Linked DNA regions of Homo sapiens. The protein of the gene in region 4 interacts with the protein of the main gene of each other region in a biochemical or structural test. Each region holds a gene or a part of one and is shown on either strand. Other genes may lie near its edges. The genes, in order: NDEL1, DCX, NUDC and PAFAH1B1.

What was found.
Region 1: the proteins of PAFAH1B1 (region 4) and NDEL1 form a complex in vitro, tested with the Homo sapiens proteins (3 studies listed by BioGRID).
Region 2: the proteins of PAFAH1B1 (region 4) and DCX form a complex in vitro, tested with the Homo sapiens proteins (2 studies listed by BioGRID).
Region 3: the proteins of PAFAH1B1 (region 4) and NUDC form a complex in vitro, tested with the Homo sapiens proteins (3 studies listed by BioGRID).

The regions. Positions count from the first base shown.
Region 1 is NC_000017.11:8,445,860-8,452,885, reverse strand, and holds part of NDEL1 (nuclear distribution protein nudE-like 1), read right to left. Parts: coding exon 7,022-7,026; intron 6,133-7,021; coding exon 5,984-6,132; intron 4,337-5,983; coding exon 4,200-4,336; intron 2,107-4,199; coding exon 1,933-2,106; intron 1-1,932. UniProt on the Homo sapiens protein: Required for organization of the cellular microtubule array and microtubule anchoring at the centrosome. May regulate microtubule organization at least in part by targeting the microtubule severing protein KATNA1 to the centrosome.
Region 2 is NC_000023.11:111,402,171-111,409,196, forward strand, and holds part of DCX (neuronal migration protein doublecortin), read right to left. Parts: intron 1-7,026. UniProt on the Homo sapiens protein: Microtubule-associated protein required for initial steps of neuronal dispersion and cortex lamination during cerebral cortex development. May act by competing with the putative neuronal protein kinase DCLK1 in binding to a target protein.
Region 3 is NC_000001.11:26,938,731-26,945,756, reverse strand, and holds part of NUDC (nuclear migration protein nudC), read right to left. Parts: intron 4,301-7,026; coding exon 4,097-4,300; intron 4,005-4,096; coding exon 3,939-4,004; intron 3,098-3,938; coding exon 2,981-3,097; intron 2,887-2,980; coding exon 2,692-2,886; intron 368-2,691; coding exon 284-367; intron 190-283; coding exon 71-189; intron 1-70. UniProt on the Homo sapiens protein: Plays a role in neurogenesis and neuronal migration. Necessary for correct formation of mitotic spindles and chromosome separation during mitosis. Necessary for cytokinesis and cell proliferation.
Region 4 is NC_000017.11:2,666,629-2,673,654, reverse strand, and holds part of PAFAH1B1 (platelet-activating factor acetylhydrolase IB subunit beta), read right to left. Parts: intron 6,664-7,026; coding exon 6,457-6,663; intron 3,493-6,456; coding exon 3,324-3,492; intron 1,001-3,323; coding exon 898-1,000; intron 1-897. UniProt on the Homo sapiens protein: Regulatory subunit (beta subunit) of the cytosolic type I platelet-activating factor (PAF) acetylhydrolase (PAF-AH (I)), an enzyme that catalyzes the hydrolyze of the acetyl group at the sn-2 position of PAF and its analogs and participates in PAF inactivation.

The DNA.
Region 1 (7,026 bases), 5.8 Mb from region 4:
CACCTGTAATCCCAGCTACTTGGGAGGCCAAGGCAGGAGAATCACTTGAACCCAGGAGGCGGAAGTTGCAATGAGCCAAGATCGCACCATTGCACTCTAGCCTGGGCAAAAAAAGCAAAACTCTGTCAAAAAAAAAAAAAAAAAAGAGAAGAAAAAGAAAAGAAAAGAAAGAAAGGAAGAAAGAAAAAGAAAGAAAGAGAAAGAAAGAAAGAAAGAGAAACAAACATTGTAAAAGGTAAAATACAATTAAAGACAGACCACTTCAGAAAGATCAGCTCTAAGATCTTACCGATTTCTCTGACCACCTGCTGCTGCTCACAACTCTGTGCTTTCTTGTAATGAAATTGCAGTGATCTAGTACACAGCAGCTTTTAGGTTAGCCAGTGAAAATTCATGCTATTGGTTCCAGCCTAAAAACATATCTATTAAGCAAATATTACTGCCATAGGGTTGGCACACCTCATGCCGTGCCACAGCAGGCTCCATGTCCTTTTGACTCCCCAAGTCCCTGAATGAAAACTCTAACGGGCTATTAAAAAAAAATGTGCACCACCTGTGGGTGTCACCGCACCTGAGGCTTTTCACTATTCTGATTCGTCTTCAATTAAAGGATTTTCAGATCTGCATAATTCTAATCAGTAACATAAAAGTAAAACTTTGTTAGTCCTCAGGTGTAATTGTGAAATCTTCAAATATACAAGCAGCTCTTCTGAAAAACTGACCGTGAGGGCTCCTGATGACTGCTAATAATCTATTGCCTGCCCTTTGTCCTCAGCAGTAAACCTAGCGCAATTAGTAACACCTTACAACCATACAGCACCTTCACATACCTTATCTGATATCATCTCGTAACAAGGCAAAGACAAGTTGAATTACCTACTCAAGGGTTACTGAGCACTTGAAATGTGGTTAATGTGACAAAGAAACTGAATTTTATATTTTATTTCATTTTAATATAAATTTAAATAGCCACATGGGCTGGTGACTATTGAGTAGCACAGACAGAGAGAGCTCACTGTACTAGTTGCCCACATAGCATTCTAAAAGATAAAACCCTATATTTTAAAAAGGGTGGGATGACAGCTTCAATATAGGGTGGAAAAAAAAAGCAAGGGGGGATGAGAGTAGCAGAAATATGAACTACGAGCTGCAAAATCTAAACAAATCTCAATTGAGAGCTTTAAGATTCCATTTTAAGGTTCTATCTAGTGGCTACTAGGTGGTTTTTCTGCTTATCCGGATTTTAAAAAAACACACTGGTTCATGGCAATGTGAGTATTCTGTATGTGCCAATCATCAATTACTCCGAACAATGCTTTTGAAAATGGCAGCTCCTGAAGCATGTAACAGAATGGGCATGTCCATCCAAGCCGGTCTTACATGAGTCTGAAAGATAACTTAATGATTCTCTGTACATTCTATGTAGAAAGGCCTCAGGTCTCCCATGATATGGAAAGTGGCAAAAGGAAGAAATAAAACTGTGTTTAAATATGATCCCCAAATTTGCATGTGACAAAGAGATGTGCACAAACACACACAAGCACACAATAGAAAAAAAAACTCAAAATGTTAATGGTGGGTGCCTGTAAGTGGTAAGATAACATGATTTTTATTTTCTTTTTCTGTGTTTTTAAAATTTTCTACCTAAACATACGGCTGTAATCACAAAATCTATTGCTATCATCAAAAAATAAACTTTCCTTAAAAACCTTTAACTTTTAAAAATCTCATCTTAAATGTAACCATCATTTCACTGTTTCCTATATATTAGTGGCCTAGGAAAACAATTCCTTCTTCTATTTCACATAGCACTAGACTTCACCAACTTTTAAACTAAAATTACTCTTTAAACCTTAGCAACCGCCTTCAGCAACAAACCCCCGTAAGCTGATCATCTAACACATCGCCTCAAAAAGAAAAGACATTACAAACCTTTCGGTGAAGGAAAAGTGTTCTCCGTTCCTTTGCCAACAGGGGTAGCTGGCAAAGAAAGTGATGCTTGGACGGCGGAGTCCATCTTTTCACAGTCTAGAGTTGGAGAGCTAGGAGCCGACTTTCTAGTTACTTCCTGTTGTCTTTCCCGAACTGCTAGTTCTTGCCTTAAATCTGTAAAATATTGCAAACAAGGGCAGGAATACTCACTAGAGGGAGCAAATATATCAAGCAAAGTGACATCTAAAATGTCATAAAGGTCTTCTTCCTAAATTACTATTTCTCAAAAATGAATTTCCTATTTAAGTATAACTTTCATTTCTAGGGGAATAAAAATGGCAAAACTACTGTCTAAATGATCTTTTAGAATTTAAAAATGCTATAACCTGAGAGAAGTTACTTATGCTTATATGCAAAAAGAAACAGTGCAGAGTCCACAGTACAATTCACACAAAAGTAAATATTCTTCACCAACTTATTTGCTTTTATTTTCAAATGATGTAGTTTTGGGGTTATTGCAAAATCAACTAAGTGCATTTTTGTAATTTTAAATGGGCTGGCATTAACTATTATCACTATGAAATATTTACTTTTAGAAAAGAAGTATTCAGAACGGTTTAAATTTTTCTCATGCTTTCAAATATTGAGCGTTTTTTTTTTTTTTTGAGACGGAGTCTCACTCTGTCGCCCAGGCTAGAGTGCAGTGACGCAATCTCGGCTCACTGCAACCTCCACCTCCTGGGTTCAAGCGATTCTCCTGCCTCAGCCTCCCAAGTAGCTGGGATTACAGGTGCCCGCCACCACACCCAGCTAATTTTTTTTTTTGAATTTTTAGTAGAGATGGGGTTTCACCATGTTGGTCAGGCTGGTCTCGAACTCCTAACCTCAAATGATCCACCCGCCTCAGCCTCCCAAAGTGCTAGAATTACAGGCGTGAGCCGCCACACCCAGCCAATGTCGAGTTTTTAACCCAAAATTAATGTTATCTTTTCCAATTATGCAATTTAACTTACAGAATATTTGCTTGTGTTAAAAAAGGAACAAAGTCATCCCCCTTTTGGGTATGTATCCAAAAGAATTCAAAACAGGATCTCAAAGAGATATTTGGACACCCATGTTCACAGCGGTATCATTCGCAATAGCAAGAGATGGGAGCAACTCGATGTCCATCCACAGATGAACAGATAAAGAAAATGAATACATACAATGGAGTATCATTCAGCCTTAAAAAAGAAGGAAATTTTGTCACATACTACACATGGATAAACCTTGAGGACATTATGCTAAATGCAATAAACCAGTCACAAATACTGTATAATCTCCCTTATATGAGGTATCTAAAGTAGCTGAACTCATAGAAAATAGAACTGTGGTTGCCAGGGGCTGAAGGGAAGGGAAAATGGGTAGTCACTATTCAATAGGTATAGTTTCAGTTTTGCAAGATGAAAAAGTTCTAAAAATTTGTTTACACAACAATTTGACTATACTTAACACTACTGGACTGTACACTTTAAAATGATTAAGAAGCCAGGCACAGTGGCTCACACCCATAATCCCAACATTTTGGGAGACAGAACCAGAAGGACCATTTAAGGCCAAGGGTTCAAAACCAGCCTGGCCAACATACTGAGACTGTCTCCACAAAAAAAATGTTTTCTTAATTAGCTGGATGGGGCCAGGCGCGGTGGCTCACGTCTGTAATCCCAGCATTTTGGGAGGCCAAGGCGGCCGGATCACGAGGTCAGGAGTTCGAGATCAGCCTGGCCAATATGGTGAAATCCCGTCTCTACTAAAAATACAAAAATCAGCTGGGTGTGGTGGCGGGCGCCTGTAATCCCAGCTACTCGAGAGGCTGAGGCAGGAGAATTGTTTGAACCCAGGAGGCGGAATTTGCAGTGAGCTGAGATTGTGCCATTGCACTCCAGCCTGGGTGAAAGTACGAGACTTCGTCTCCAAAAAAAGTTGACTCTAAGCTTCTTCTGGCATAGGGACAGTAAGGTAAGGGAGGATAAATACAGTTGTCCCTCAGTATACATGGGGATTGGTTCCAGGACCCCCACCTACACCAAAATTGGCGCATACTGAAGTCCCACAGTCAGCCCGTATATATGAAAAGTCAGCCCTCCATATACAGGGTTTTGAATGCCGTGAATACTGTATTTTCAATCCACATTTGGTTGAAAAAAAATCAGAGTATAAGTGGGCCCACACAATTCAAACCCATGTTGTTCAAGGGTCAACTGTATTCTTTAAGTTATAAATTTTACCTCTTGCTTCATCCTTTAACCTCTGTACAGAGACCAACAAAGATTCCTTTTCATCAAGTTCACTTTCTAAAAATGCATTTCGTTCAATGGCCTGGTTTAGCCTTTGTTCAAAGTCTTCCAGTGAAACTATTGTTGCCCTAAAAAGAAAAATTAGAGTACATGAATTAAATAAATAACATGTGCAAACAGATAGTACAAAAGGAAACTGTCAGTTTATCTCGTGACATTTCCTGACCTAGCCAGCCTGGCCCCAATCAAAGAAGATGATCTTGCCCCTTCCTGACCACTGCTGGCACGTAGTGTCTCTATCAGTTGGGCAATATATACAATACATTCTTTTAAATTCCCATCTATTCCTTAATGTTCCCTACAGAAAGGCTATTTGTTACACTATTTATATCTCCACTGTGTTTTGAACACAATACAATCAAGTTTACACATTTTCAGAAAGAAAACTTTTCAAAACTTGTAATATATGTAAGAGTTTGTTTAAAACATTAAGTCCCAAGTCAGGGAACCTAAGGCCAATTCACACTGACTTCCTAGAACTAAATCAAAAGGAAAACCGGAACTTTCCACACCTAAGTAAGAAAAGGACCAGAAGCTATTCCCTTTGCTTTCTGCAACCACTCAGACATTTGCATAGGGTGTCACTTTGTAACTTCACTTCAGCCTCTGATTGGTTCCCCCACTGCCCCCCCCCCGCCCACCTCCCCGCAACCAATCTGGCTGCTGCCTCCTCTATGCCCTGGAGCAGCAGCTTGCCCACTTTTTTTTACTAGGGTATTAACATAGTGAATGTACATATCTGTCACCCCCAAGGGTAGTGACCAGACTAGCTCCGCATCTGTAAGTTTAGCATCATGTCAGTCACTTAAGACTCACTGGATAAATATTAAGGAAGGAAATACCAGGAAACAATTATAAAGTAATAGGAATTAAGTTTGGAATGGTTAAGAAACAACTAATTACACATGCATAAAAGTTTGGCAACAGTGATAGCAAGCCACTGCACGTTGTTCAGAAATTTGAACTGAAATCAACATTTTAAGAAAATTCATCAGTCAGTATTAAAAGAGAATAAAAAGGAACAGAAATATAAAGATATATCAGCTAGAGGATAACTACAGAATCCAGGTATAAGATATGAGGACCTACAGGAAGTATGGAAGTGTTAAGAGCACAGAGGGAAGATGGGGGAATGCATGAGACAGTTTAAAAAATAAATAAATACACAAAACCTAGGCTGGGTGCAGTGGCTCATGCCTATAATCCCAGCACTTTGGGAGGCCAAGGTGGGCAGATCACTTGATGGCAGGAATTCAAGACCAGCCTGGCCAACATGGCAAAACCCCGTCTCTACTAAAAATACAAAAATTAGCTGGGTGTGGTGGCACATGCCTATAATCCCAGCTACTTGGAAGGCTGAGGCACAAGAATCGCTTGAATCTGGGAGGCAGAGGTTGCAGTGAGCCGAGATCATGCCACTGCACTCCAGACTGGGCGACAATGTGAGACCCTGTCTCAAAAAACAAAACAAAACCAATAGGATCAACCACAGTATATGAAAGAAGGAAAAAAGAAAAATTGAAAGAGAAAGCTTTGAAGGGCGTTATCTGGGAGATGAGGATTTGGGGTTCCCTTCCGTCCGATGAGTTACAGGTGACATGAAACACCAACAGGAAATGTTCTGGGACTAAGATCTAGGGGAAGAGCCTAATAAAGATTTTAATCACTAATTACCAAGGTGGTTTTTTTCTAACAAAATGCAGTCATTCGTTTACCTTTTGGCTCGCTCCAGGTCGTCGTTGGCCTGCTCCAGCTCTCTCACATACTTATGCAACTGCTCCTTAATGGCCCGAGTCTGACTTAAATCATCTTCTAACACTGAGACCTGCTTATAGCTCTGTGCATATTGATGCTCTAGCTTCTCCTGAGGGCATCAGTATAGGAAAGTACATGTCATTAATATACAGTTCTCTTTACTAAAGAGGTAACTCAAGTTAAAAGGGTGGGGGGGAACCCAAGGAATTTACCCACACTCTTGTAACAATTACTTTAAAAACAACTAAATGACACATTCATTCTAAGTGCCTAAACTCATGTTAAATTTTGTCAACCATTCTCCTCTCAGAAAGAAACCCAATAACAATCTCTCTGAAAAGAACTAATATAAAAAATCCTTGCCTCAAAATCCGCAAACTTGTTAAGGAAACCTCTGGATTTTCAGGCTAAATGCGGCCCAGGGTAAGCACAGAGTTCACATTCCCTACCTTTCACCTGCCCATCCAACCTTCCCAGAACCCACCCACTCCCCAGACACTAAATACCCTCAAGCATGTGGCTACAGTAGATGGTAAAGGGCAGAGAAAGGGGTGAATCCTTTTGCTCCTGAAAATTCCTTTTTAGAAGGGAAATTTTTAACCCTAACTAAACTCCAAAACTGAAAGGGCTATGAACAATAATGAAATAAATGCATATTCCCTATCAATATAATTGTAAACATACTGCAGAATGAGGCAACCTATCTGTCAAAACAAATAATCAGGCAGCTTTTGAAAATTATAGGAACTATAATATAATATAGCTAGGAACATTATAGCTAGAAAAGTGACAACTACAAAGTTTCTAAGTGAACTCCTAAACTCTAAACCACCTTTTCCCCTGGTTCCGTGAAAGAAAACATTTTATTCAAAAATTCACTTTAAGCGTTTTTTTCAAACTATTTTTTGTCGCCAGCTGCTCTTAAGCACCTGAAAAACATATTTCTCATTTTAATAAAACTCAACACATTAGACCCCAGCGTCTACTGCTGCAATTACCTTTA
Region 2 (7,026 bases), on a different chromosome or scaffold from region 4:
TAATGAGGTAAAGAAGTGAGAATACATTATACAGCCTGATTTATGGATTGGAAGGATCTAGTGTAATTTTCACATTTACCTTGGGCTAGAGGAAATGACTAATATCGCAAAAGAAATGCAGGGATCAGAGGCAAGAGGAGGGGACTGGACACCTGGGACTATGAGCTGAAGAAAATAGGAAGAGAGATAGGCTCAGCCTGGGGAAGAGAATACTGGAAAAGGTTGAATTCGTTGAGTAAAACACATTAGCCTCAAGGTATCTAGAAGTTCATTGAGAGGTTGAGCTGCAGAAACAGTGTGATTTAATCAGGCTTAAGTCATCGGTAATAACCCTAAATAAATAAATAAACCCTAGCCAGTGCACAGAAAGCATTAAACACAATTATAGTCTGATGGCTCTCCTTTGGTCTCAGCAGGAGAACTGCATTCAGAAACACCAGGTTGATAATTCACTCCCTTTGCAAATATTTATTGCTTTGCCATAGCACCAAATCCTTTAAGACATGTTAATGAATAAATTTCTCAGTAATGCTAAGAGAAGTTTCAGTCAAAATCTCTAGTGTACCTTTGAGGACATTTATGTGTGTGTGTATGTGTGTGTGTGTGTGCGTGGTGTGTGTGTGTGTGTGTGTGTGTGTGTGTGTGTGTGTGCGGAGGGGGAGGGTAAGTGGCATCCAACATAAGCAAAGTGACTTCCAAAGCTGCCCTCAGTCCCAGAGTTCTATCTTGACAGGGGGACAAAGGGATGGTTTTAAGTGAGGATAGGCACCCTTACCCACTTGGTGCATACATGGACACCCAGGATGAGATGGTCAATACCTCAGCCAAGAGAAGCTCTGATTTCTTTGACTCCCTTGCTGGTTAATTCAACCCAACCCAAGTAATTATAGGCTGGGGTCTTTAATTTTTGACTTAAAAGGATGAAGGAAGGGGCCCTTTTAGTGTCTCCATATATTCACAGCCAATAACCCCCATAACCCTAGAAATGGTCTCTTGACTTAGCAGTTCACCAGATTCACTGGCACCTTGCAGGAGGTCACTGCCTTTGAGTCAGATGTTTTCCATAACTTGTCATGTACTTTAAAACTGTCAGACAAATGGTGGTGTGGAAATGTGTGAAGCTATATATTTATGATTTCACTCATCCAGTCTCCTCTGGAGAGTCAGCTGTGTAGCCCTATTAGGACTTTGGACTTTTTTGCTCCCATCTCTTAAACCTCTTAAGCCTCTGGAGTATGAGTATGATTAACCGTCTCCAGATGAAAATGAACATGATGACTGACAGCTATAGTATCATATAGCACCCAAGAACTTTCCAGAGGGCCCAGCCTCAGCCAAATCTATGTTGAGCACCTTCCAGTGGTACATTTTAGTCACTCCACTCTCTCGTTGGGCTGAATATGGAGTAATGGAAAAAGCGCAGCTGATGTGATGTCAGTCAGGATGGGGTCCCCAACACTTCCTAGTTGTGCACTCTAACCTCCCTTGGCTTCAGTTTCTTCTTTGCAAAGCAAGGGTGATAATAAGAATACCTATCTTGTGGGGTTGTTGTGGGGCACAAATCAGATGATGGATAAAAAGTGTTCAACCCATGGCCAGGTGCGACGGCTCATGCCTGTCATCCTGACACTTTGGGAGGCTGAGGCAGGTGGATCGCTTGAGATCAGAAGTTCAAGAGCAGCCTGGACAACATGGTGAAACCCCATCTCTACTAAAAATACAAAAATTAGCTGGGCGTGGTGGCACATGCCTATAATCCCAGCTACTAGGGAGGCTGAGGAAGGAGAATCGCTTGAACCTGGGAGGCAGAGGGTGCAGTGAGCTGAGATCGCACCACTGCACTCTACCCTGGGTGACGGAGAGAGTGAGATTCCGTCTTAAAATAAAATAAAATAAAATAAAATAAAATAAAATAAAATAAAATGCTGATCCCAGAGCCTGGAACATAGTAAGCACTTGATAAATTTCTGTTATTATTAAGCCCCTAATCTTACGGAATAGAAGCGAGAACAAGAAGGAAAGAGCAAAGAGGAAAAGAGGAAAAAATTGCTGAGAGAAAGAGACTAAAAAGAGGAATAGAAGCTGAAGAGGAAAAAAAAGAGAAAGTATCAAGGGCAACCATCTAGGAACTGAGCTGTGATTATGATATGACATGAGCACTGCTGGGGGCCTGTGATTCAAGGATAAGATTTCCTGCTGGTTGGAAGGAGGCTTCCAGTTGTGGCAAATGCCAAATGTAGGAGATTTATGCTAACACCCAGTAAAGCTGCTGCTGCCTCTGCAGAGGCCCGCTGAGAGCAGGATATTTATCGTCGTCAAGAGTGATGACTTAGGAGTCACACAGACCTGGATTCAAATCTCAACTAGGCACTTAAAAGCTGTGTGACCTCAGGGAAATCACTTAATGTCTCTGAGTCTCAGCTTTGCCTTCTCTAAAGCAAAGATAATGCACTAGGTGACACCTGAGTCCCTTCTAGGTCCTAGAGTCTATAGGGAGGAATCTTCTCTTTTCCTTCTCAAACAGGCTTCAGAAAACAAAGCTGTTAGGATAATTAAATGTTAAGAAAATAGCTGCCCACCTCCAAGGACTCTTCACTTCTGCTAGAAAGACATCAAATGCTCTTCTTTGCTAGACTAAGACTTCCTTGTCCTGATTTTGCCAGCATTTTCAATGTCTGCTGCCAGAGCTCAGTGCCTCCTGCACTTCCTGCTGCCTGGCACTTGGAGCTGGATGAGGTGTGTCGCACCTTTACACAGTTGGGTTCCCATCCTGCCACAGCTTCCAAGGGCTATTTCCTACCAGCTGGGGGCCTAGAGGGAAAGCTGGCTTCACAGCCAAGCAGGGTGCAAATTCGCTGGAACTAAAAACCTGCTTTAGGGTGAGGGGATAAGGAATGAAATCATGGAAGCACAGCTGAAAGGGCAGAAATGAAACAAGCTGTGGGCTGGAGATGATCTAATGTCTACCTCCCTTCTCTTTAAGAAGGCTGCATTTTCAAAAGCATTTTATATATATTTGTATCTTCTCAGTGCAAAAGCAAGCTTCTGCCTGGGTTTTCTCCTCTTCTCCAGGGCTTCCTGACTCAAGAAGGAATATATTAAATGACACTTTACTGTATTATATTAAAATATTAAATGACATTTGATTATCATATCTATTAGCAATGCATCCCTCCCAGGTATCTTAAAATTCTTGTGTTTGACAATGTACTTGCTTTAGTAGTTAGAGAATAAATTAGTGAGAAGGTGGATTCATCTCAATGAAACATATGAGCTATGGTAAAAGAACTGGATCATAGCCAGTGTGACTACACAGCTCGGATTTTCTAAGACTGTTCCAATTGTAAATATTCTGTCCCATGGTCTGTGTAATAACTCTTGAACTTGTCTCAATTTGGGTTCAGAAAAGCTGGCTAGTCATAAATGATATCCCCAAGGTTGATCTGGATACTTACATACAAGAAAATGGGGAAAGAATTGGACCAGATATAAAGGGAAAGAGAAAGATTCTAAAAAAAATAAATAAAATAAAAAAATAATAAAAAAAACAAAGACATGACAAAAGGAAAACCCACCAGTGGATTTTATTCATTGACCTCCTTGGGATACAGCTAATGAGGACCATATCCTACATGGCTTCACTAAGACCCTCGGTGTACCCAAGGACTGTGGGAAAACTGACATCAATAACCTTTGATCCAAAATGCTTCCCTTGATACTTTCTGTATCTAGCAGAAAACCGTAGACAAGAGGCACTAGACAAAGGAGTGTCACAAGGCCAGAGTGATTATTAACCAATTATTTTTAAATTTCATTTATTTTTAGGCTAAAAATGTAATAATGTGGCCATTTGAAAACACAGTGTGTTCTATGCTCTATTATTCCTTTAAGATGTAAAAAGAAAAAAATTAAAACAGATTTCTGCACGTCTCAAAACTCCTACCACTTTAGTTAGGTGAATGGAACCATCAAGATCACCCAGTCTAATACTTCCCAAGTCTAAGTGCTCATAAAAGTCATGTGAGGAGATTTGTAAAAACACAAACACTGGGGCCCTAGCCCTGGGGATTCTGATTCAATAGATCTTGGGTGTGGCCCAGGAATGTAATATTTTTCTAAAGCTCTGAAAGATTTTGAAAGGCAGCCGGGTTTGGAAACCACTGACCATTACAATCCCTTACTAACATAATCATTGTCATAATCATTATTATTATTATTTCCATTATTAGTATTTTCACATCATTAATAATAATAGTACCTGTAGCTATAATTTTACCTTGTCAATATGTTTCCATATCTATTATCTAAGTTTAACCTTACAACCACCCTAATGGATAGAGAAGGCAGGTGTTACTAGTCCCATTTTACAGTTAAAAATATTATTCACAAGAGATACACAAATGTGGTGGTCTACATATACATGAAATATCATCCTTCAACAAAAAGGAAAGAAGTGCCAATACATGGAACAACATAGATAAAATTTGAAAACATTATTCTAAGTCAAAGAAGCACAAAAGACCACATAGTATTTGATTCAATTTATATGAAGTGCGCAGAATAGGCAAATATGTGGAGACAGAAAGTAGATTAACCATTGTCTAGAGCTGAAGAGATTGGAGAAAATATGCAGTGACAACTAATTGGAATAGGGTTTCTTTCTGAGGAAATGAAAATGGTCCAAAATTATGTTATGATGATGGTTGCACCACTTGATAAATCTTCTAAAAATCATTGTACACTTGAATGGGTAAATTTCATGTTATGCAAATTATACCTTAATACAGTTGTTTGTTTTTTTAAAGAGTTATTTTAAAAATAATTAACATGAGTCACATTAATGATAAGAACAAACCTATGATCATGTAGCTAACCAGCTATAAACTAGGATAACTCAAACAATAATAACTACCTTTTATTAAGCACTACTGTGTGCCAGGCAGAGTAATATGCACTTTATATCTACTGTCTTATTTAATCCTCAAAGCCATTATTCCCACTTTACAGATGACAAAATGAGGCTTAGGGAATCTAGATGGTTTCCTCAAGGTCTTACAGGCTAGCACTGACAGATCCTGAATTTCAACCAAATCTGAGTCCAAAGACTTCTGTTTTCATTATAATCTGCTGCCTCTAAGACTAGAACCCAATGACCCTGATATTTCACACCGGGAAGTCTGTCCTCCATTCCCAGATGGGCAGTTCTAAAATATAAAATAGGAGAGAAAAAGACACATTGTCTTCATCCTCCTCATCCCAGTGCCCTTTCCCATTTGGCTCTGTGGCAGTGGGAAAATTGATCACATTTCTTAACACTATCCCAGACATAGCCCTGAATTTTCTTGACTGAATAGGCAGTACTAAGGACTAAATGGGTATTGAGGTCCACTGTGCCTTGTAGTTGTACATGACATGTGAACAAATGCAACTGAGCCCTATTCACACTTCACATAGTCCAGGAATTCACCAAGAAGTACTACTGCACCCAGGAGTGACAGATAAGAGGAGTTCAACCTAATATGACTCAAAGGTAATCAAGGGAATAGAAAGCTGCAGTCTTTTCAAAGTTACATTTATTGCCTACCTATGTTGAACAGAGATTATCACCAGCCCCTCGTGATACATCAATACGCACACACACACACACACACACACACACACACACACATATCTAGGGAGAAAAATCAACATGTAAAAAATGGATTTTGGGGAAATTTTGTGCATAACGCCTCTCTTATATCAGAGACAAGAATATTCTAATACTTGGTCTGAATACAATGTCACTTGGTTCAGTACTCTTTCCTAATGTCTATTGTGGTCTTTAGAATATCACAGTTCATGGAAATGAGGACATATTGGGTGATACAGGGTGCTTTGTCTGTGAAAGTTGTTACAGAGAAATCCCTGAAATTTGACTGAGATGTGGATTTTACAGTGACAAAAGACAGACACCCTAACAATTACTCTGTTGGACAGCTCCCTCGACCTAGCTTCAAACCCTTCAAAGTTGCCGTGACTCTCCTTTATTTTAAGACATGCTCCAGGATGGCCAGTCCTTTGATGGTCAGGAAGGGCCTAGGATTAACCACTGCCTGTCCATTGAACACATGATGAAATAATCTAAGCTTCCTGGGCATTGGTTTTCAAGGTCAGCTATGTAGAAAGATCTCGGCCAGGCACAGTGGCTCACACCTGTAATCCCAACACTTTGGGAGGCCAAGGCGGGTGGATCCTGAGGTCGGGAGTTCAAGGCCAGCCTGACTAACATGGAGAAACCCCACCTCTACTAAAAATACAAAATTAGCCAGGCATGGTGGCACATGCCTGTAATCTCAGCTACTTGGGAGGCTGAGGCAGGAGGCAGAGGTTGTGGTGAGCCAAGATCATGCCATTGCACTCCAGCCTGGGCAACAAGAGCGAAACTCTGTGAAAGAAAGAAAGGAAGAAAGAAAGAAAGAAAAGAGAAAGAAAGAAAGAAAGAAAGAAAGAAAGAAAGAAAGAAAGAAAGAAAGAAAGAAAGAAAGGAAGGAAGTCGAACTTGAACCTTGAGACTCAGATGCAGCAACAATATGGACACTGTCTTTTATAAGTAACTGGTCCCAATCACTTTGCCTGACAACTTGGGCAACAGCAGCTATTTGAGAGAACTAGTGTCTTGTACAAAGGAAACCCTCATTCTCCTTTGTCTAGGAACACAAGAAACTTAGAAGCAGTGAAGCAGAGGCAGGTTTTTCCCACATCAAATTCTTTAAGGTGCTATTTCTCCTTCCTTGTTAGTTATTTCATAATTTGGTTACTCTAGAGATCTGCCTGCTTTAAACTCACCTTTGCTCAGGGAATGAAAGGAGTGAGGAGAGAGGGCTGGATAATGGGGGAGGGGCTTGAGGAGGAACACATTAATTATCACCACTCCTTGAAGCTGTTCTTTAAAGCACTGTATTAGGTCAAATTGATCACATGTGTTATATCCACCAATTTTAAAATAGGGAAGCATCCTCAGTATAATTGATTTGATAATATAGAATG
Region 3 (7,026 bases), on a different chromosome or scaffold from region 4:
TCACTGCTGTCACCGAAGTCTAAGCCCCCAGGCACCCACGGTCCCCCAACCCCGTCTCTGAATTGCTCACTTCTTCAGAATCTCCTGTTTCTTCTGTTCGTCTGAAGTTGGCAGCCCCATGGACTTCTGTCGCTGGTCATACATCATCTTTTCCACCATGCTGCGAGTCTCACTGTCCAGGTCTGACAGCTGAGGGCAGGCAGTGACAGGAATCGGTGAAGCTCTGGAAACAACGAGGCCCCTCACCTTCCTGCTGAAGCTCCCCCAACCAGCCAGGGCTCACCTTGGAATTCTCAGGGTTAATCTTCTTGGTGTTGATCTCAGGGTCACTGGACACCAAGCGGCTCCACCACTCCATCTTATTGATCTGTGAAGAGAACAACCAGAGGGTGGGAGGTGGCCTGCTCTGTGCACCAGGAATCACCCCTTAACCCTTTCACAACCAAACTCTCTCCCATCCACATCCTGCACCTGAGACCCTTGCAGGCCTACACTGGATCCAGAGGTACAAGACTGTGCCCTTCCTGCAGCTAGGGGAGACACAGAGGCAAAGAGTTACAAATCAGTGTGATAAGGGAAAGAAGAAAGCAGAAAGGGAGATATTCATCCAGGGTGGAGGGAGAAAAGTTTGAAAGTGACACTCGGGCTGAGTCTTAAGACACAAAGCAGTATTCCAGATTTAAAATGGGAAGAAAATAAATATATATATTTTTTGAGATGGAGTCTTGTTCTTCTTGTCCAGGCTGGAGTGCTGTGGCACCATCTCGGCTCACTGCAACCTCTGCCTCCCGGGTTCAAGCAATTCTCCGGCCTCAGCCTCCCGAGTAACTGGGATTATAGGCATGCACCACCACACCTGGCTAATTTTTGTATTTTTAGTAGAGACGGGGCTTCACCATATTGGGCCAGGCTGGTCTCAAACTCCTGACCTCAGATGATCTGCCTGCCTCAGTCTCCCAAAGTGTTGGGATTACAGGTGTGAGCCACCATGTGCAGTGGTGCAGTCAGCTCACTGCAACCTCCACCTCCTGGGTTCAAGCGATTCTCCTGCCTCAGACTCCCAAGTAGCTGGGATTACAGGCGCCCACCACCATGCCCAGCTAATTTTTTGTATTTTTATTAGAGATGGGGTTTGCCATCTTGGCCAGGCTGGTCTCAAACTCCTGACCTCGTGATCTGCCCACCTCAGCCTCCCAAAGCGCTAGGATTACAGGCATGAGCTACCACGCCCAGCCAGAAAAAGTTTTTAAGCAGGGAAGTGCCAGGTGCAGTGGCTCCTACCTGTAATCCCAACACTTTGGGAAGCCAAGGCAGGAAGATCCCTTGAGCCCAGGAGTTTCAGACCAGCCTGGGCAACATGAGACCCTGTCTTTACAAAAAACATTTAAAAATTAGCCAGGTAGGGTGGCGCTCGCAGTTACTCAGGAAGCTGAGGTGGGAGGGTCGTTTGAGCCCGGGAGGTCAAGGCTGCAGTAAGCCGTGATTGCGCCACTGCATTCCAGCCTGGGTGAGAACAAGACCCTGTCTCAAAAAATAAAAAATAAATTTAAAAGGCAGGGAAAGGGCTGGGCATGGTGGCTCACACCTGTAATCCCAGCACTTTGGGAGGCCGAGGTGGGCGGATCACAAGGTCAGGAGATCGAGACCATCCTGGCTAACACGGTGAAACCCTGTCTCTACTAAAAAATAGAAAACAAAACAGACAAAAAAAAAAATACAGGCATGGTGGCGGGCGCCTGTAGTCCCAGCTACACTGGAGGCTGAAGCAGGAGAATGGCATGAACCCAGGAGGCGGAGCTCGCAGTGAGCCGAGATCGCGCCACTGCACTCCAGCCTGGGCGACAAAGCAAGTGCAGAGGCATGGAGGGGTGAGTGAGTGAAGGCAGCCAGTGCCAGTCGGACAGGCTGTTACAGGGTCTTATGTGCCCTGGGAAGTTCTCCTCAGACCCTTGGCCCTTTTCAGACCACCTTTATTTACTGATCTCTGTGTCCTACCTCTCTGTAAAGGCAGTGAGGTTGAGAATGAAGGCTTCCTGAGGGCACATATTTTCCTATGTTTTGTTCACTGTTCTCTTTCCAGCACTTAGAACAAGAACAGTACCAGGCACAGAGCAGGTGTTCAAGTATTTGATGAATTGAATGCATGTACAAACCTAGTGAAAAAGAAGTGGCTTTAGAAACTAAGACTTTCAATTCTGACTCCACCCCTTCCCAGAGGTAGGAGCTTGGGTAAATCAACGAGCTCTTTTCCTGACTCAAGCCTGTAATCTCAGCACTTTGGGAGGCCAAGGTGTGAAGATCACTTGAGGCCAGGAGTTCAAGACCAGCCTGGGAAATATAGTGAGACCCCCCGGTCTCTACAAAAAAATTTAATAACAAAAATTAGCCGAGCGTGGTGGTGTACACCTGTAGTCTTAGCTACTCAGGAGGACGAGGCGAGAGAATTGCTTGGGCCCAAGGGTTCAAGGCTGCAGTGAGCTAAGAAGGTGTTACTGCACTTCAGCCTGGGCAACAGAGTGAGACCTTGTCTTTAAGAAAATAAAATAGAGACAGATCTACTTTAAAGAGTGTTGTCATGGGGATTAAGATAATCCCACAATGCCCCCAGCATGGCTCCTGAGTAAACTAAGCACACATCCTCCCTTCTACTTCCATCAACACCCCAGGCTAGAAGGGCTGGGCCTCACATACCTTCTCCAGATGCACAGTCACCACCTTGCCGTCCTCAATGAGCCACGAGCTCTCCTCCACCTTCACTTCATTGTAGAGCTCCCCATCAATGATCGCTGGCTGCCCCTTGAGCCCCACCCGGAGGTGCCGCCGCTGGATGTCCACCACCATGTCCTTCCCTTTCAGCCGGAAGTTCACACAGAAAGGGACCGCCAGCTGCATAGGGCAGAGGCAGTCAGAAGAGGCCACTAAGTGCTGCTGGTACCCCAGGCTGGCCCCCTAAGCTTTACCTCTGGTCCCTGACACTCACGTCCAGCTCCGACAGGGTCTGGGTCCAGCGGTAATTGGGCAGGTCTGCCCCGTTGCCTAGGTTGGGCTTCAGTTTTCCTTTGTCCTTCTCATCTTCCTCCTCATCTTCCTCAGTATCCTGCTTACAATCAGGGACACTCAGCTACTTACTTGACAGACAAGACACAGATTGAACCCTCACTGGGCCAAGCCCAGGGCTAGCACTGGGCATACAGCCACAAAAGAAAACAGACCTGGTCCCTGCCCACTCCACAGAGGGGCAGACCCCCAAGCCTTGGTCCACTGGGAACCAGGTAAAACTTGGTTCTGATCTCAGTCTGAGAGGAGCTCAGACTATTAATATTATACCATGTGACAAAGGATATGGCTGGGCCCACAGAACCCAGCCAACCTCAGATGGGACCTGTAATAGGCACTGCCCTCTCTGGCTATTGGGTTTTCTTGCCATAAACAGGTTAAGGTCAGTCGGTTTTTATTTTATTTTTTTGGGACGGAGTCTTGCTCTGTCGCCCAGGCTGGAGTGCAGTGGCGTGATCTCGGCTCATGGCAACCTCCGCCTCCCGGGTTCAAGCAATTCTCTGCCTCAGCCTCCCGAGTAGCTGGGATTACGGGCGCCCACCACCATGCCTGGCTAATTTTTGTATTTTTAGTAGAGATGGGGTTTCACCATCTTGGCCAAGTTGGTCTTGAACTCCAGACCTCGTGATTTACCCACCTCGGCCTCCCAAAGTGCTGGGATTACAGGTGTGAGCCACTGCGCCTGGCAGGTTTTTATTTTTTTAACCTGGATCCTTTGGTTCAATGTCTCTGAGTGTGATCTTAAAGTATGGGGAAGATTCCCAAAGCCAGGAGGGGAGGGGATAGGATAAGGAAGGGTATTCCAGAGAAAGCAGTAGGCAGGAGATTTCCTGTAAGTTCCAAGCTCCTGGCTCATCCCAAGTCCCTGCAGTCCATCTCACCTGCTTCCCTGGGGAGTCAAGGCTGCCGTTCTTGAGCTGGGCCTCATGATTCTCTGCATCCTTTTTCTGGGGCAAAGAGCACAGCAGTTGGCAACAGGACCCCACTGCTCAGTGCCAGGGGGGATCTGAGGGGTGGAGAAGGGAAGCCCACCCTTCACCTGGTCAATCTCTAGCTGCAGCCTCTCTGCCTCTTCATCAGTTAGCTCCTTGATCTGGGGCCCTGAGGTCTCTGACTTGGCTTCCTTGGCCAGTCTGGCCGCCCGCTCCGCCTTCTCCCGCCGCTCGGCCTCCTGCCGGGCTCTCTTCTCCCGCCGGGTCTTCTGTGCCAGCTGATTGTGGTGGCTGAAAGTCTGTGTGATAAGCTGGAGAGGGAAGAAAGGCCATGAGGCATCAGAGCAGGGGACAGTGTCCCACAGCCTGGAGTCCAGCCCCACTCTCTACCTGCTGGGTGCAAGGGCAAAGCACTGCACCCAGAAACTCGGTTTCCTCATGTGCAAAATGAGGAAAATACATCTATCTCATAGGGTTGTAATGACAATACCTGCAAAGCACCTGTCTCAATAAACTGGCTGTTTTAAAAAGTGATGCTTGGCCGGGCGCGCTGGCTCACACCTGTAATCCCAGCACTTTGGGAGGCTGAGGAGGGTGGATCACAAGGTCAAGACCATCCTGGCCAACATGGTGAAACCCTGTCTCTACCAAAAATACAAAAAAAAAAAAAAAAAAAAAAAAAGCTGGGCATGGTGGCGGGGGCCTGTAATCCCAGCTACTCGAGAAGCTGAGGTGGGAGAATCGCTTGAACCTGGGAGGCAGAGGTTGCAGTGAGCAGAGATCGTGCCACTGCACTCCAGCCTGGTGACAGAGCAAGACTCCATCTCAAAAAAAAATAATAATAATAAATAAAGGAATTGGAGACTAATCTGGCCAACATGGTGAAACCCCGTCTCTACTAACAATACAAAAAAATTAGCCAGGCGCGGTGGCGTGCGCCTGTAATCCCAGCTACTCAGGAGGCTGAGGCAGGGGAATTGCTTGAACTAGGGAGGTGGAGGTTGCAGTGAGCTGAGATCAGGCCACTGCACTCCAGCATGGGTGACAAAGCGAGACTCTGTCTCAAAAAAACCAAAACAAAAAAAGTGGCGCTGTTTAAAGTAAAAACTCAAGCCTCAGTCCCTCACAAGCCTTTCCTGAGTTCTCAGGCCCACTCCTCTGACTAATCACTCTTACTCTTAGTGCATCCTGTCTCCAAGACCACAGTCCAGCTATGCAAGACTTGACACCACACCCAAAAAGGACACGTTAGCAGAAAGCCAGGGAGCTTTTTTTTTTAATTTTTTTTTTTGAGATGGAGTTTCACTCTTGTTGCCCAGGCTGGAGTGCAGTGGCGTGATCTTGGCTCACTGCAAGCTCCGCCTCCCGGGTTCAAGTGATTCTCCTTCCTTAGCCTCCCGAGTAGCTGGGATTATAGGCATGTGCCACCACGCCTGGCTAATTTTGTATTTTTAGTAGAGATGGGGTTTCTCCATGTTGGTCAGGCTGGTCTCGAACTCCTGACCTCCAGTGATCCGCCTGCCTCAGCCTCCCAAAGTGCTGGGATTATAGGTGTGAGCCACCGTGCCCGGTCAAAGTGCTGGGATTATAGGTATGAGCTACCGCGCCAGGTCAAAGCCAGGGAGCTTTCTTGAAGGAAGAGCCTGTTCACCCTCTCTCCAGCAAGCAAGCTATCAACTTCAAATCCTTTTTCTCCACTACACCTTCCCAGGAGGTTTCCACTCCAGGATGTGCTAGCCAGCCTCCCTGCTACCCAAGGACAACCCTCCACCCATACTATTGCCACCTGTCATTATTTGGCTCCTGGCCTTAGACAAGTGAACAACTTTGACTCTTTCTAAGCCTGTTTCCTTATCCGTCATGAGGATTGAGTATGACAGCACAAATCAAGAGCCTAGTGAGGTCCACATCACAGGGTTCCCCTGACCTGCAGCATCAGCATCACCTGGAACCTGTTAGAAACGCTAAATCTTAAGCCCCACTCCAGATCTACTGGATCAGAAATTCTGGGGTATGGCCAGGCAATCTGTATTTTTAACAAGCCCTCCTGGCCAATTTCCATGCATACTTCAAAATCACACCTAGATTTGAGTTCCTGGTCTACTCTTACCTGCGTGACCCTGAGGTCATGTCTCTGTGCCTCTATCTTGTTATTATTATTATTATTTTTGAGGCATGGTCTCACTCACCCAGGCTGGAATGCATTCGACCTCCCTGGGCTAAGGTGATCCTCCCACTTCAGCCTCCCCAGTGGCTGGGACTATAAGTACATGCCACCATGCCTGGCTAATTTTTGTATTTTTTTATAGAGACAAGGTTTTGCCATGTTGCCCAGGCTGGTCTCAAACTCCTGGGTCAAGTGATCCACCTGCCTCATCTTCCCAAAGTGCTGGGATTACAAGTGTAAGCCATTATGCCTGGTCTAAGTTATTATCTCTAAAAACAGTCTTGGCCAGGTGTGGTGGCTCATGCCCGTAATCCCAGCACTTTGGGAAGATGAGGCAGGTGGATCACTTGAGGCTGAGGCGGGCAGATCACCTGAGGTCAGGAGTTCTTGACCACCCTGGCCAACATGGTAAAACCCTGTCTCTACTAAAAATCCAAAAATGAGCCCGGTGTGGTGGCACACGCCAGTAGTCCCAGCTACCTGGGAGGCTGAGGTGGGGGAATCACTTGAACCCGGGAGGCAGAGGTTGCAGTGAGCAGAGATCGCGCCACCAGCCTGGGTAACAGAGGGAGACCCTGTCTCAAAATAAATAAAAGCAATCTTGGCATGTGTTGTTCTTTGCCTAGAATGTCTCATCCCCATTCTCAGGTCACCTGGCAAACCAATTCATCCTCCATGACCAGTCAAGTGTCAAAGTTTCACCTCTGGCCAGGAACATACCCTTAGGACACTCAACTCAATGCCAACCCATACACAGTGTGCATGTGCACACATACGCACATACCCCTAGAGGCCTTGCAGGGCACTTGCCATGTGATCAGTGGTCAATAAACCCTCTTTCAAGCATCTCTAAGGCAGAACTGCAGGGAA
Region 4 (7,026 bases):
TTTGTTTTTTTTTTTTGAGACGGAGTCTCGCTCTGTCGCCCAGGCTGGAGTGCAGTGGCGCGATCTCGGCTCACTGCAGGCTCCACCTCCCAGGTTCACGCCATTCTCCTGCCTCAGCCTCCCGAGTAGCTGGGACTACAGGCGCCCGCCACCACGCCCGGCTAATTTTTTGTATTTTTAGTAGAGACGGGGTTTCATCGTGTTAGCCAGGACGGTCTCGATCTCCTGACCTCATGATCCGCCCGCCTCTGCCTCCCAAAGTGCTGGGATTACAGGCGTGAGCCACCGCGCCCGGCCAAAGATTATTTACACTTTAATTTAAACCCACAGAGAGATCACCTAAAAGAAGACCACAGAGGAAATAAGCCATTACACAGAAATGCTTCTCAAGGACATAGAGTCTCTCCTTACAATGTCTCTGTGCTCCTTTTTGGGAGACATGTACAGATCAAACTTAGTTTTAAAGTATATTTAATATGACTGTCATAATGATCATTCCGGGTTAAAGTCGAAGTGACTGCAACACCAGAACACAATTTTGTTTTTTATAAATATGTCTTTAAGCTGATGCCTTTTCTTTTTTTTTGAGACGGAGTCTCACTCTTGTTGCCCAGGCTAGAGTGCAATGGCACGATCTCGGCTCACTGCAACCTCCACCTCCCAGGTTCAAGTGATTCTCCTGTCTCAGCCTCCCAAGTAGCTGGGAATACAGGTGTGCGCCACCACACCCGGCTAATTTTTGTATTTTTAGTAGAGATGGGGTTTCATCATGTTGGCCAGGCTGGTCTTCAATTCCTGACCAGGTGATCTGCCCACCTTGGCCTCCCAAAGCGCTGGGATGACAGGTGTGAGCCACTGCACCTGGCCGCTGATGCCTTTTCAACTAAACTTACTTACCCAGTTTGCACTTCCCACATTTTTATAGTTTTATCCCTTGAGGCAGACACTATATGATCTCCATTGGGCATGATGGCTACTGAAGAAACATTGTGGTCATGGCCTAAAACACATAACAGCAATATATTATGAAGTAATATACCACCAAGAGCAATGAAACATCAATTGACCATGGGATTTTACCATGGGGTTTCACTATGTCAAAGCAAGTTCTAAATACACTGGATTTTATACAAATTGGATAAGAAACCTGGATTTACACGATAAAGTTAAAAAAATCAGTAAAACAACAACCCACAAGGAAATAGTCAACTCCATTTAGGATTAAATTTCAACCTGTACAAATGGTTTAAAAACAAAAGGCATCACGATTATCAACATTTGAATATATTCATATACTTACCTCAGTGAGTCTGAATGTTTACATATGAACGCTAGGGAAACATTTTTTTTTTTTTTTTTTTTTTTTTTTGTGAGGCAAGGACTTGCTCTGTTACCCAGGCTAAAGTGCAGTGGTGCAATCATAGCTCACTGTAGCCTTGAACTCCTGGGCTCAAGAGCTCTTCCCGCCTCAGCCTGTCGGGTAGCTGGAACTACACAGGTGTGTACCACCACATCTGGTACCACCACACCCACAACTATTTTATTTTTTGTAGAGACAAGGTCTCCATATTTTGCTCACACTGGTCTCGAACTCCTGTCCTCAAGCAATCCTTCCTGCCTTGGCCTCCAAAAGTGCTGAGATTATAGGTGTGAGCCACTGTGCCTAGCTTCTAGGTTGATATTCTAAGATATAAAAAAGATAAAGCAAATGGATACAAAAAATGGGGAATTGGTTCTCTGTTTAAAATGGTGGGCCAGGCGCAGTGGTTCATGCCTGTAATCCCAGCACTTTGGGAGGCCGAGGCGGGCGGATCACCTGAGGTCAGGAGTTCAAGACCAGCCTGGCCAATATGGTTAAACCCTGTTTCTACTAAAAATAAAAAAGTTAGCCGGGTGTGGTGGTGCTTGCCTGTATTGCCAGCTACTTTGGAGGCTGAGGTGGGAGAATCATTTGAACCTGGGAGGTGGAGGTTGCAGTGAGCAAAGATTGTGCCACTGTACTCCAGCTTGGGTGACAAAGCAAGAGGCCATCTCCAGAAAAAAAAAAAAAAAAAAAAAGGTGGTGTTGGGGGTAAAAAAAAAAAATGCATTAGAAAGAACTCTTTTTAAAGTTACAGCTAGAAGATACAGGCAACTTAAAGAAAAATAAATGATAGACCTTACGTGGCTCACGCCTATAATTCCAGCACTTTGGGAGGCTGAGGCAGATCAGGAGGTCAGGAGTTCGAGACCAGCTTGACCAACATGGTGAAACCCCGTCTCTACTAAAAATACAAAAATTAGACGGGCGTGGTGGCGCGTGCCTATAATCCTAGATACTCAGGAGGCTGAGGCAGGAGAATCACTTAAACCTGGGAGGCGGAGGTTGCAGTGAGCCAAGATTGTGCCACTGCACTCCAGCCTGGGCGACAGAGTGAGACACAGTCTCAAAAAAAAAACAACCAAAAAACAACAACAAAAAAACAGTGTTCATGCGTGGAATTCCTGTAATTATAAACTTCCCCAATGCATTTAATTTGGGACAGAGAAAACACAACCTTCAAATTATGCCCTCTAGGTAAACACAGTTTACTCATGTGTTAACGTGTTCCTTGTACAAAATCCCAACATTCAAATGTCATCATGTATAAAGAAACAACAAAAATCCCTAAGTAATGAGCATCTCCTATGTGGCAGGTACTACACCAAGATGATTTATCTTATGACTTCATCTTATCCTCATGACAACTCTATGACTCTGGTATTATTACCTCTGTTTTGCAGATGAAAGAGGTTTAAATTTTCTAATACCGTAAGTAGACAAGTAGGAATTTGAACCCAGGTGTCTGACTCCAAAGCAAATTACTCTCTTTCCACAAAACATACTGCCTCAGAAAACAGTTCCCACAACAAGACCCGGGAAATAATGAACGAGGGCATGGGGTCTGTGCGCTCAGCTCATTTCACTTAAGTGAGCAAGAGAATCTGGGCTCGTTTTCACTCGACCTACTCTCTCTGGACTTCAGTTTCCCAACTAACAAAAATTAAAACACAAACAAAACCATTTTTAACTCAAATACAGATAAATGACCTGGCAGTTTTTCTTACCAAGAAATACTCATACAAATATTTTATGTAAAGTACTAAAAGATACTTAAAACTTCCTAATAGAAAGCACTCTCAACTACTGTGGCTTATCCCTGGACTATCTACATGGTATGCTCTTCCACCAATACTGACAATTAAGAGGTGAATAAAGGAACACTGTACACTGTTAGAAACAATATTCCTTCTGAAGTACCATGATAGAAATTACTGTTAAAGCACTATCCTCTACCCCTTACCGTGCATGGTTCTGATGCATTCAAAGCCCTGAAAATCCCATAGTTTAATGGTCATATCTGCAGAACAGGAAGCCAGAAGCTTGCCGCTGTGGTCGAATGAAATGTCCTGTACAGAGTCTGTATGTCCTTTAAGAGTTCGTTCAAAATCTCCAGTCTCATAATCCCACACCTGTCAAGTGAACAGAAAATTGGTTAACACCAACTCCATCACTCCTTTCTTGTTTCACATTTGCACTCAGCAGGCCAGTCTGGCACCTTACTGAGTAACTAACCGAACAAGTAACAAAGGATAACTATTTTAGAAATATTGTATCTCATGTATAAATTGGTCTTTTTTTCTACAGGGAAAACTAATGTTGCAATTATTAAAATCTATCTCTAGAACCACATTTATAAGGTTTCTATCACATAACCAACTGTAATAGTGATAAGGTATATAAAGTCACAAGACATAGTCCGCTCCCTGTCTCAGAGCAGGAATGACATGTAAATAAGGAAACTTAAGGGGAAGAAATAAGAGGAAAGAAAGAGAAAGAGATGGAAAGGAAAGGGAAAGAAAGGGGAAAGGGAAGGGGAAGGGAAGGAGCTTCAGAGGGCTATAGCAGGCATTTGTATGTAGAATATTTGAGGAACAATGGATGAATACTCGATCCTACTAGACCATCAGAACTCAGACATCTAAAGGGCCAAGGAAAGATTTCAGAAGATGTTAACTGTTCACGAATAGCAAATGAACAAGAGCATATGTCATTTTGAGTTAAAAAATGAAATATGGCCGGGCGCAGTGGCTCACGCCTGTAATCCCAGCACTTAGGAAGGCCAAGGCGGGCGGACCACGAGGTCAGTTCGAGACTATCCTGGCTAATATGGTGAAACCCCGTCTCTACTAAAAAACACAAAAAATTAGCCAGGCACAGTGGTGGGCGCCTGTACTCCCGGCTACTCGGGAGGCTGAGGCAGAATTGCTTGAACCTGGGAGGCGGAGGCTGCAGTGAGCCAAGATCATACCACTGCACTCCAGCCTGGGTAACAAGAGTGAAACTCCATCTCAAAAAAAAAAAAAAAATTCTAATTGCTGGCTAAATCACTATTATAGAAAACATTATAGTGAACATTTTTTAATATAAAAAAATTCTGTCCTCATTTTATAATACCTAGGTCAGACAGTAATGGGGAGAAACAATTAGTGGGTCAAAAAGTATAAACTTTTAAAGCCTTCATATACTCTATTAAATTGATATCCCGTAAGACTGTATCATATGTAATGAGAATGACTACTTTATCAAAATCTTATCATCACTGGGAATTCTTATTTAATAGGTAAAATACCTTGACAATTTGACACACATATATATGTATGTGTGTCTCACTCTTGTCGCCCAGGCTGGAGTGCAGTGGCGCGATCTTGGCTCACTGCAAGCTCCGCCTCCCGGGTTCACGCCATTCTCCTGACTCAGCCTCCCGAGTAGCTGGGACTACAGGAGCCCGCCATCACTCCCGGCTAATTTTTTGTATTTTTTAGTAGAGACGGGGTTTCACCATGTTAGCCAGGATGGTCTCGATCTCCTGACCTCATGATCCACCCACCTTGGCCTCCCAAAGTGCTGGGATTACAGGCATGAGCTACCGTGCCCAGTCCAATTTTTTTGTTTTTAAGACAGGGTCTCACTCTTCGCCCAGGCTGGAGTACACTGGCTCAATCATAGCTCACTGCAGCCTCCAACTCCCAGGCTCATGTGATCCTCCCATCTCAGCCTCCTGAGTAGCTAGGACTACAGGCATGCACCACCATACCTGGCTAATTTTAAGTAGAGACGAGGTCTTGCTATGTTGCCCAGGCTGCTCTCTAACTCCTGAGCTCAAGCAGTCCTCCCACCTTGGCCTCCCAAAGTCCTAGGACTATAGGCATGAGCTACCACACCCGGCCCATAATTTCAGTGTTTATTTCTTCTGCTGTTAGTAGTAAGGCCAAACCGTCGTTACTATTTGGTTAGTTGTAACTACCTTTTTGAGACAGTCTCGCTCTGTCGCCCAGGCTGGAGTGCAGTGGAGCGATCTTGGCTAACTGCAACCTGTCTCCTGGGTTCAAGCGAATTTCCTGCCTCAGCCTTCCAAGTAGCTGGGACTACAGGCGCACGCTGCCATGCCCAGCTAATTTTTTTGTATTTTAGTAGAGATGGGGTTTCTCCGTGTTGCTCAGGCTGGTCTTGAACTCCTGAGCTCAGGCAATCCACCCGCCTCGGCCTCCCAAAGTGCTGGGATTACAGGCGTGAGCCACCGTGCCCGGCCGATTGGTTATACTTTTGTAAATGAAACTTAATATCTGTAACTTACTTTGAAATAACCCTTAGGATAGAGGCATCTACCTAAATCTACCTATATTGCAACTATCTTATCTTTCTGTAGGTGGTTTATACAACGGTCATTTTATTGTGTCCGGAACAAAGGCAACTTAAAAACAACTCTTTTCCTAATTAAAAAAGCACAACATTAAAAGGTAATAATATTTTTACTGTGAAAAAAATTTTTTAATGAAATACGTAATTTATAAAATGAAAAGCTTGTATATTCCCACACTCCTGGAAAGCCAATTTTAAATACATCAAGGAAAGCCCAATTTAAATGAATCCTCTACTGAATTCTTTTGCAGTATAGATTCACCCTATCAATTACTAGTTTTGTCAATCAGTATTTCACACATAACCTCCGTTTAAAGGTAAGACACACACTTTTCATTCTCCAAGAACAAAAATTGTTCAAGCACAAGGTGATGTACTGACATCAACTCAGTTAGTGACACCCGACTTTCTCAAATTCACCATCAAACTTACCTGGCAGCATGCCTCTCAGGAGCCACAATGATATTTTATTCCAATTCTGTCTTTTAAGATTTAGAACCAAATCACACGTTTCAGAGTACCTCCTGTCCCTCTTCATAGGCCCTCATTTTCAGGATCTTTTAATTTTCTTCACCCTATTAAGTCTGCTTTTTTTTTTTGAGACAGAGTGTGGCTCTGTCGCCCAGGCTGGAGTGCAGTGGTGCAATCTCGGCTCACTGCAAACTCCGCCTCCCGGGTTCATGCCATTCTCCTGCTTCAGCCTCCCGTTAAGTCTGCTTTTAACAAAAAATTACCTTAATTGTAGCATCCTCTGAAGCAGAGACCATAACACTGAACACAGGATGGAAAATGACTCGAGTGACTGGACTCCTGTGACCACTCAATGCATATTTTTCTGGCGGACGGGGAATCCATTCTTTTGGGTCTCGTTTCTGACCAAGAGGTCCACCTGACGTAAATTCTTCTTTTGCTTCATTTAGCTTTGATTCTAATTCCATAACCTTGAAAAAGAACATGTAGTTACGTACAGATAGATTTCAATAAAAATAGCATGTGACATTTTAAAAAACTGCCTTTATTTTGCAACTATGTATGTAGGATACTTGAAAAAATTTCAGTAATCTCCAAAGCATTTGTCAAATTTAAATGAAAATTATTTATTTTGTACAGCATCAAAATCTAAGTCATGTGAGGAAACTAAAAATTGAGAAAAATTCAGTACAATTGCCTTAACTCTTTAACAAAAAGAAAAATTTCGATTTGTATCTGGTGACAGAGTCCTCTACTAATTAGAGAAGGGCAGTGAATTTGTCTTGGTCCCTCTAAGGCTGCTACTCTTAGTAAGTTCTTTCCAAACCACATTA